Regions from separate parts of the Homo sapiens genome. Here region 2 is reported to be linked to region 1. The links are microRNA targets in miRTarBase. Many come from high-throughput screens and were not tested one by one. Region 1 holds a microRNA gene; the other region holds the end of a gene's coding sequence.
Evidence for each region. The annotated mature microRNA hsa-miR-4795-3p reads AUAUUAUUAGCCACUUCUGGAU and lies in region 1 at 2,661-2,682, opposite strand. An mRNA with a match to its seed (bases 2 to 7 or 8) in the 3' UTR can be bound and repressed. Matches are read on the target gene's strand: a 7mer-m8 pairs with bases 2 to 8, a 7mer-A1 pairs with bases 2 to 7 and ends in A, and an 8mer does both.

Region 2: the mRNA of ZNF180 is a reported target of hsa-miR-4795-3p. Seed matches in the 3' UTR shown: 8mer at 927-934 and 7mer-m8 at 1,268-1,274.

The regions. Positions count from the first base shown.
Region 1 is chr3:87,223,539-87,227,937 of GRCh38, forward strand. MIR4795 (microRNA 4795) reads right to left here and starts at 2,739; the gene lies at 2,651-2,739. CHMP2B (charged multivesicular body protein 2B) reads left to right here and starts at 3,771. Exons shown (of 6, transcript NM_014043.4): 1 at 3,771-4,018. The coding sequence starts at 3,985. RefSeq lists enhancers at 3,223-3,362, 3,473-3,532, 3,623-3,672, 3,723-3,792, 3,863-3,982.
Region 2 is chr19:44,472,684-44,477,082 of GRCh38, reverse strand. ZNF180 (zinc finger protein 180) reads left to right here. Exons shown (of 5, transcript NM_001278509.3): 5 at 1-2,640. The coding sequence ends at 681. It also overlaps the pseudogene ZNF285BP. Among named protein-coding and RNA genes, the nearest start is that of ZNF180, 26 kb to the left of the region's middle.

The sequences.
Region 1 (4,399 bases):
AAAGCAGAATACAGTGTAGTTAGTGAAATAGCAAAACAGCTTAAAGTATGCTCAAATTTGAATCCATGTGAAACATGAAACAAATGAGTTGATGTTTTCGCTAAATCCTTACATACATACAGAATTATTTATTGACTTTTAGGTTCTCTAGATCTCTACTGTTGTTCATGGAGATAGATAATGTTAGCTGCTTTTCATATATAAAGAGACTTGAAGTTAAATGTGTCAAATCAACAAAAATGTACCAAATGTATATATATATACTTGTCATTTGGCGTTAAAACATTGAAACATGGATAATATGAAAATACGATTGCATATTAAGTTTCTATTAAATATATTTACATTCTAGTAGGAAAATTATTGAAGGGCCTGACAAGAGATTCTCTCTGAACCCAAGGAGTTTAAAATTGAAGCTGAGGAGAAAAGACAAACAGAAACAAATCTGCACCGAATCCTTCCAGTACCAATGTTAGATACATATTTCTATAACAAGTCAATTCCTACACAAATAACAGATTTAAGAACAAGAAAACCATTATCTTATTATTTATTTGTTTATTTTACTTTAAGTTCTGGGATACATGTACAGAACGTGCACGTTGGTTACATAGGTCTTCATGTGCCATGGTGGTTTGCTGCACCCATCAACCCATCATCTAGGTTTTAAGCCCCACATGCATTAGGTATTTGTCCTAATGCTCTCCCTCCCCTTTCCCCCCACCCCCTGACAGGCCCTGGCATGTGATGTTCCCCTCCCTGTGTCCATGTGTTCTCACTGCTCAACCCCCACTTATGAGTGAGAATATGCAGTGTTTGGTTTTCTGTTCCTGTGTTAGTTTGCTGAGAATAAAACCATTTTTTTATTAAGGAGAAAGAAATGGGCTAATTTGGGGAGGTGGTGGCTGTTAAGGTGAAGGTAACCAAGATCAGCATCAGAAAGCCTAAATCTTCAATTTGTGTTTTCTGTACTACAGAGAAGAGAATTTCAGCATGAAGATTACTTGAGAAAGCATAAAAAGGTAAAACAGCTGGAAACAACAATACAGATAATACAAAAATGATTATTATGTGATATGGTGTGAATGTACCCCCCAAAAATTCATATGTTGAAACTTAATCACTAATGTGATAGTTTTTAGAGGTGGGAACTTTAGGATGTGATTAAGTCATGAGGGTGGAGCCCTCATGAATGAGATTAGTTCCTTTATAAAACAGGTGTGAGGGAGCTGCCTACCGCCCTTTTACCCTTCTGTCCTTCTTGCCATGTGAGGATACAGCATCTCTTTCTTCTTGAGGATGCAACAGCAAGGTACCATCATGGAAGCAGAAAGCAGCTCTCACCAGAAACAAAACCTCTGGGTTCCTTGATCTTGGACTCCCCAGCCTCCACAAATGTGAGAAATAAATTTCTACTGTTTATAAATTACCCAGTCTGTGGTATTTTGTTGTAGCTGCACAGAGGGGCTAAGACATTACGTGCCAAGCACTACTTTGAATGTTTAACATATTAACTCATTTAATCCTTGCAACAGCTATTAGGTTGGTGCAAAAGTAACTGTGGTTTTCGCCAATTACTTTTGTACCAACCTAATATATGAAAGGTGGGCTAATGTTATCTCTATCACATATGTGATGAAAGAAACACGGAGAGCTTCAGTGAACTGGCCTAGGTCTTAAAACTTAAAAGTCACAGAATTGGTCACAGAACTGGGCAGTCTGTGTCCAGAATCAGCACTCTCCAATGTTATGCTATCTTTCTTCAAAAGCTGAACAAGGAGAAGAATGCACCCATTCAAATTATAACCCGAGGTACCCAAAGATGAAAAAATGGCAAATATTTCAGTTTCAGAGGAGGAAACTATGTTATGAAATACTCCAGAAAACAACATATATTTAAGTGTATCATGCCCTTTAAATAAGGAGCGATATAATAATACAAAATGTGTACAGGAGAAATGTGGCCACCAACTAATCAGAATGGACTCTAGCTAGACTGGTGCAATCAGCTGAATATCAGCCTTCTTCAAACTATGGGAGAACAAGCTATTAGAGTACTGAGTTTAAATAGTAAATATTTCTATTTTGTCTTTATTGTAATGAACAAGCCCTGTCTTTAGCTCCTGCTGTGCACTTTTGGAGGGTCTTCCATATGGTTGCTCCTAAGTATTTTGGCATTTTCCCAACTGTTACAATTGGGTCAGTGGGGGGGATTGTATAGGAGTAATAAAACAAGGGTGACTGCAGCAGGGAGGAGTACGATTACTACACACATAACAGCTTATTGCCTCTCATGCGTTCAAGCACAGCTCTATGCCATTCATTACAACAGACAGCCAGGGCAAACTGCCATAGAGCTCACTCCAGAAAAGGCCCGGTCTTGAGTGCAGAGACTAAATCTTCTCACTTACATGTCTTCCTAATGTTTCCTTACTTCATCTTCCCATATCGAGAATAACTTGAGGAGAAGCAAAACAATTATATCTTGCATATTACTACGTCATTCTTAAGAAAGTTTTCTTGAACAGACTCTCAGCTAACTTTTAGCAGCAGCAGCAGCATTATCAGTGGCTATGAGGGCTTGGATATCTCAGGAGGGGAAAAATGGGAAAGGCTGGCCTGATTATCATAAATAATAATCCTTGAGACATGATTCATAAATCCAGAAGTGGCTAATAATATTGACATTATTGTTATAGTGTCAATATTATTAGCCACTTCTGGATTTCTTCCATATCAGAGATAATATTTATGAAAAAAAAAATGCTACCATTATTTTTATCCTGTGGAAGGCAGTGTTGCTTTAAACAGTAGAGACTATATACAGGTACGCACGCATAGGTTGTATTTTCCATTTTATACATGCAAGGATTCTTTAAATAATTCATTACATTTTTTCTTTAACATGATATGCAGTTTTTCACAAAAAGCCCAAATAAACGGCTGTGAGGAATTCTAATAGGATCACCGTATAGCCATGACACTTTATGATTCATGATTTACAAGAAATTAAGAAATAGAGCTGGAGACATTTAGACCAGCCTACAAATTTGTGTGTGTGTGTGTGTGTGTGTGTGTGTGTGTGTGTTTTAATGTTTCCAGGCAAGAACCTTAAACAAAAAGTGTAGCATTAAAAAACTTCCCTTCGTCCTCGAGACCCCCCCAACTCTAGACACTGGATCCCCGGAGACCCACGCTGGGTCGTCGGAGTCTGGAGCCGGGGGCGGCAGGTGAGCGGCTAGGGTCCTGCAGGGGTCTGCGCGGTGCGGGGGAGGTCGCCGAGTCAGTCAGTGCCGAAAGGACCGCGAACTCCAGGGGCCAACAATCACCGGGTACGGAACTCAACGTTTCCGCCAGTTCCTGGATTACTCGAGTAAAAACAAACAAACAACAACAACAACAACAACAAAAATACTAACAGCAATGGGACCGTAATAAATCAACTCGGAGTGGGTACAGGCGGTTCCGGGACAACCCACACTTAGTCTAGGAGCCCGGAGATCCCTCATCCAGCTTTCCCCGGGGCAAGGGGTGAAGCGCTAAGCAAGGCTGATCACTGTCCTCAATCATCACCCAACCCGCGCACAGAAGCCGTGGCCCCACGCTCTCCTATCCCCGCCAGCTCCAGACTCGCCCCGCTGCCAACTCCCGGTGCAGGAGGAACTGGCAGCCGCAGACGTGAGGAAAGCGGCCGCGGCTTCAAACTCCGTAGTGCGCAGGCGCCACACAACGCGCAGGCGCCGCCTAGAAGTGACTTCTCCAAAAAGTGTGTTAGTTCCCGGTCACCTGAGCTCCGGGTGACGCGGCTGCGGTAGCTGCGGATACAAGCCTTCCGCGGGTCCTGCCTGGCGACCCCGACCTCCTCCTGCTGTCTCTCCGCTCCGCCACCCCGAACCCGCCAAGGTCCTGTCCTTTTCCTCCTGTCCTTTGCCAGCGTTGGGCCGGACCGGGCCGAGCCGGGCCGCCCGGGCGCAGTCTTTAACCATGGCGTCCCTCTTCAAGAAGAAAACCGTGGATGGTGAGTTCCAGGCCGGGCTGAAGGGGCCCAGCTCTGCGTTTTCTCGGCGTCTTTCGAGGCCTGCTGGCCGCGATTCTGCCTACTGTCCCTGGAGGCGGGGCTGGATCAAGTGGTCCCACAGGTGACCGCCCTCGCGGCACCACTTCTCTGCCTCCCTCTTGCTTCTGACTCACCTCACCTTAGGCTCACCTAGGCAGTCTGGTTGCTTCCCTATCCTCACGATTCCCCCACCCTCGGGTTTTCCTCAGCAGGATCCTGAGCGTTTCGAGGAGGCTAGCTGGCCCTTGAGTGTCAATAAACTTGGAAATCTGATGGATTTCTTGTTGGTTTCCTCTGCTTCGATTGTTGCTCTTCAGTTGGGCGATATACTACTTGTAGGCA
Region 2 (4,399 bases), not on the chromosome of region 1:
TGTAATCAATGTGGGAAATCATTTATCCAGAGCTATAAACTTATTGCACATCAAAGAATTCATACTGGGGAAAAACCCTATGAATGCAATCAGTGTGGGAAATCCTTTAGTCAAAGTTATAAACTTGTTGCTCATCAGAGAACTCACACAGGAGAAAAACCCTTTGAATGTAATCAGTGTGGGAAATCCTTCAGCTGGAGCTCTCAGCTTGTTGCACATCAAAGAACTCACACTGGAGAGAAACCGTATGAATGTAGTGAATGTGGAAAATCTTTTAACCGCAGTTCTCACCTTGTTATGCATCAGAGAATTCACACTGGGGAAAAACCGTATGAATGTAATCAGTGTGGGAAATCCTTCAGCCAGAGTTATGTTCTTGTTGTACATCAGAGAACTCATACTGGAGAAAAGCCCTATGAATGCAGTCAATGTGGGAAGTCCTTCAGACAGAGTTCATGCCTTACTCAACATCAGAGAACTCATACTGGAGAGAAACCATTTGAATGTAATCAGTGTGGAAAAACATTTAGCTTGAGTGCTCGACTTATTGTGCATCAAAGAACTCATACTGGAGAGAAACCCTTTACATGTATTCAGTGTGGAAAAGCTTTCATTAATAGCTATAAACTTATTAGGCATCAGGCAACTCATACTGAAGAGAAACTCTATGAATGTAACTAGTTTGTAAATCAGCTGGGATTTCTTCCTTTTTATTTCATTCTTTTAAAAAATTTATTTTAAGGTAGTACATGTAGTTGGAAGAACTACTATAAAAACAATATATGTGGGAAAACTTCCAGCCCTCTGTTAATTGTGTGTCTCAAATTTGTTCTGGAAAAGAAAGGGGGAAAGTCTATGAACGACTTTTCAACCTGGCAATTCCATATACAATGTTAAACTTGATTCTTATGACATATTCCTATGAAAATAATAAATACTGGCACTTTTCCTTGCAGAAAGCACTCAGACCTGAATCAGAGAAAATCATATGCCAAAGCCAACTGCCAGTGTTAGACCTCTTTTTCCATAAAGAGTAAATGGAATGCTAACACTAGTGGGCTTATTGAGAAAATTTAAAGGTTGCTGTAGTGTTTAGAACTTAGGCTGGAAAACCATATTTTAGTGCATCATTTTACTACATGATCTTCCAATTAGATAGCTTGTAATCTGTTCCTTACAGCACTTGCTGTTGTTACATGTGAAGATTTTATAAATTTTAGGAAAGTGTCTATGATATATAGTGAAAAGTGTGGGAAAAGAATATAGAAATAATATTCACTTCTAAAACCATTATGATAAAATATTTGTGTATGGATTAGAATAGAAAGGGATTATGGATGTATCTATTCAATTTCTCAGTTTATGTTGGGCCTTCCTTTTTGGAATGTACGCTGTTATGCTATGATAAATGATATAATGAGTAAAAATTATTCAAAGCCAAAAATGAAATACAAAGATTTCCTTCTTTGACTATTTAGGAAAGACTAAGCAACCAAATAGCAAAGATCCCTCAGGATAATGAGGTTTATGTTTGGAATAGCATGAGCAGATTACTACTTAGGACATAGATTCCTAGGAACATTCCTCATTGAAAATAAAATGGATTCCTGGAAATAGGTAACTAGAAATTTTGGCCAGAAATGGTTTCATATGAAGAACTGAGAATGCGTGGGAAGTATAGAGGGCAAGTGGGCTTATTTTCATATATGCAAAGCAATATTAAGGAACTCTATTTTCATGTTTTAGTTCTTCCCCTCATGTAGCATTGTCTCTTTCCTCTGGGATATGTTCCCTGATGTGAGAGTCCTCTGAATAGAAGGGTGCTTCCCTGGCTCAGTGCTGACCGTCTAAATTATGCTTGCAAAAATGCTTTCATGAGGCAAAGTTTTAGTTACTCTTTGATATTTAAGATTTGATTAACATGTCTTTCTGACCTTTCCCTTGAATCATGAATTTGAATCCTGTGGATGACCATATATTGAAGCCTCTGATCCCAGAAAGGTAATAAGCTGAAAGTTGAACTGAGAGACCAGATAATAGAGGTTAATACCCTTGGGATAGGAAAGAAAACTTAAAGGGTAACTGATGGGGTTATCCTTAGCAAAATTCTATCCCTATGAGATGACCCTAAGTGGAGCCATCTCTATGAGGATTAATCCAGAGATTGTTGCACACCTGGCAGTGTCAGGTCTGGGAAAACAGTTGCTGATGTTTTCATGGAGTGTGAAATACTGAAAGCTGCGGGCATCCCTTGGGGACCACTGACCCACACTTTGAAGAACCCTCAATGAGTCTGAAAGAGGTTCAGTATCTCTTGGGAAGGATGTGTTCCAGGCTCCAGGCCTAGTCTTACATGGCCAGTGGGGTTGAAAGACTGTGCCCCTGCAATGGTCTTTTCCTAAGACAGTTGAACAAAGTTCCAAGTCTGTCTGTCCTATTTTAACCATCTTTAAGAAGCACAAAGGGGATATGAGAAAAACAGATGCTGAAATGAAAATTTTAACTGATATCTTACTTATCTCACAAGTCGTGTAAAGAAAGAAATGATATGGTCGAATATTAGATTAGATGGTTTAATGATGTTTTGAGTGTTATATATGAGCTATGATGAGACCTAGAAAATAAAGTAAAAATAAAAAATATATAAGCCATGAACATTCTTCATATTCAGTGACAGTCTGCCTGCCACACCCAGGAATTACAGAGACACTCATAGACCTCACGGGATCCTCCCCTATGTCTCCCATCTCTTCACCACCAGCCCTCAGGGAGTCTCATGTCTCCCAATTACTCTCCAATCATTCCTAGATTTCTGTAACAGTCAGGCCCTGACACCCATGTAACAAGCAGAAACTCAGGGACCTCACAGGGCTCTGGCCCCATGTCTCCCAACTCTTTACTCCAGGCCCTCAGGTACTCTCCTGTGTCTCCCAGATTCTCTCAATCCCCAGCTTACTGCAACATTCAGCTTCCCAAACCCAAGTATCACCTATAGACAAAAATCTCAGGGCCCTCTTCTATCACGTCTCCCATCTCTTCACCTGCAACCCTCAGGGACTCTCCTGTGTCTCCCAGCTCCTCTCCAACCATCCCCAGATTTCTCCTTGGGTCAGCCCTGAACACACAGGAGTCACCCAGAAACTCATAGACCTCACTGTGCTCCTCCCTTATCTCTGTCACCTCTATACCACCATTCCTTAGGGCCTCATCTGTGTCTCCCAGCTATTCTCCAAGCATCCTCAGTTTTCTGCAAGAGTCACCCCTCAGCATTCAGGAGAACCCTAGAAATTCACAGAGCTCACCAGATTATTCCCCAACTACCTCCACCTACACAGCAATGGCTCCCACATACTCCCTGGGGGCCCCACACCTATCTTCCTTTACACTCAGAGACTCCCAGGGCCTCACAGTCACTCCCCATTATCATCATTCAGCTGTAAGTCCTTGCAAATCTCCTGGCCAACGTGATGCATTTACCTGCCCATTTCTCCACATTCCTGCTCAGGGTCCCACACCTAGCCGCAGAAGAGCCCCTTCCGCATTCCAGCCTCAAATACAGGCTTGTCCTTCTACTTCATACTGCCACACACTTGCCGGCAGAAGAGGCGCGTCTAATGGCCGACATCACCACCCAGGCAATCATCACCCCTCAGCTGTGCAGCGGGACCCTCCTGCCTGCCGATGTGGCTGCCGGCGCCTGTGCCAGCGCGAACCCCCAGCCTGTCATGCTGACCTCATCGATGGCAGCGTCCCTGTCTTTTGCTCCCCCAGCCCTCCCAAAGGCTGAGTTAGCCTCTATCATCTGGAATACAGTGTGGCTTCTGTTTTCCTAATTGAACCCTGACTTACTACCTTTATAATGTTTCTCTCTGCTTATGTAGTCTTTGATGAGTCAGAAGGTCCTTGCCACGCTCACAATGTGTGTACTGTGTCTCATCTATATGCACTCTCTGATGGGCAAGGAGGTATGAATTACGACTGAAGCCCTTACCACATGCCTTACACTTATAGGGCCTCTCTCCTGTGTGGACTCTGAGGTGAACACGAAGATCTGAATTCCGACTGAAGTCTTTACCACACTCATCACATTTATATGGTTTCTCTCTGGTGTGATCTCTTTGATGTAAGTGAAAATATGAACTGTAACTAAAGCACTTTCCACACACTTTGCATTTATATGGTTTTTCTCGAGTGTGAACTCAGATGAGTGTGAAGAACAGAGCTATACACAAAATCCTTTCCACACACATTGCATTTGTATGGTTTCTCCCCTGTGTGGACTCTCTGGTGAATGTGAAGGTGTGTACTTTGGCTGAAGCCCTTTCCACACTCATCACACCTATAAGGTTTCTCCCCTGTGTGAAACCTCCAGTGGACTTGAAGAACGGAGCTTGAACTA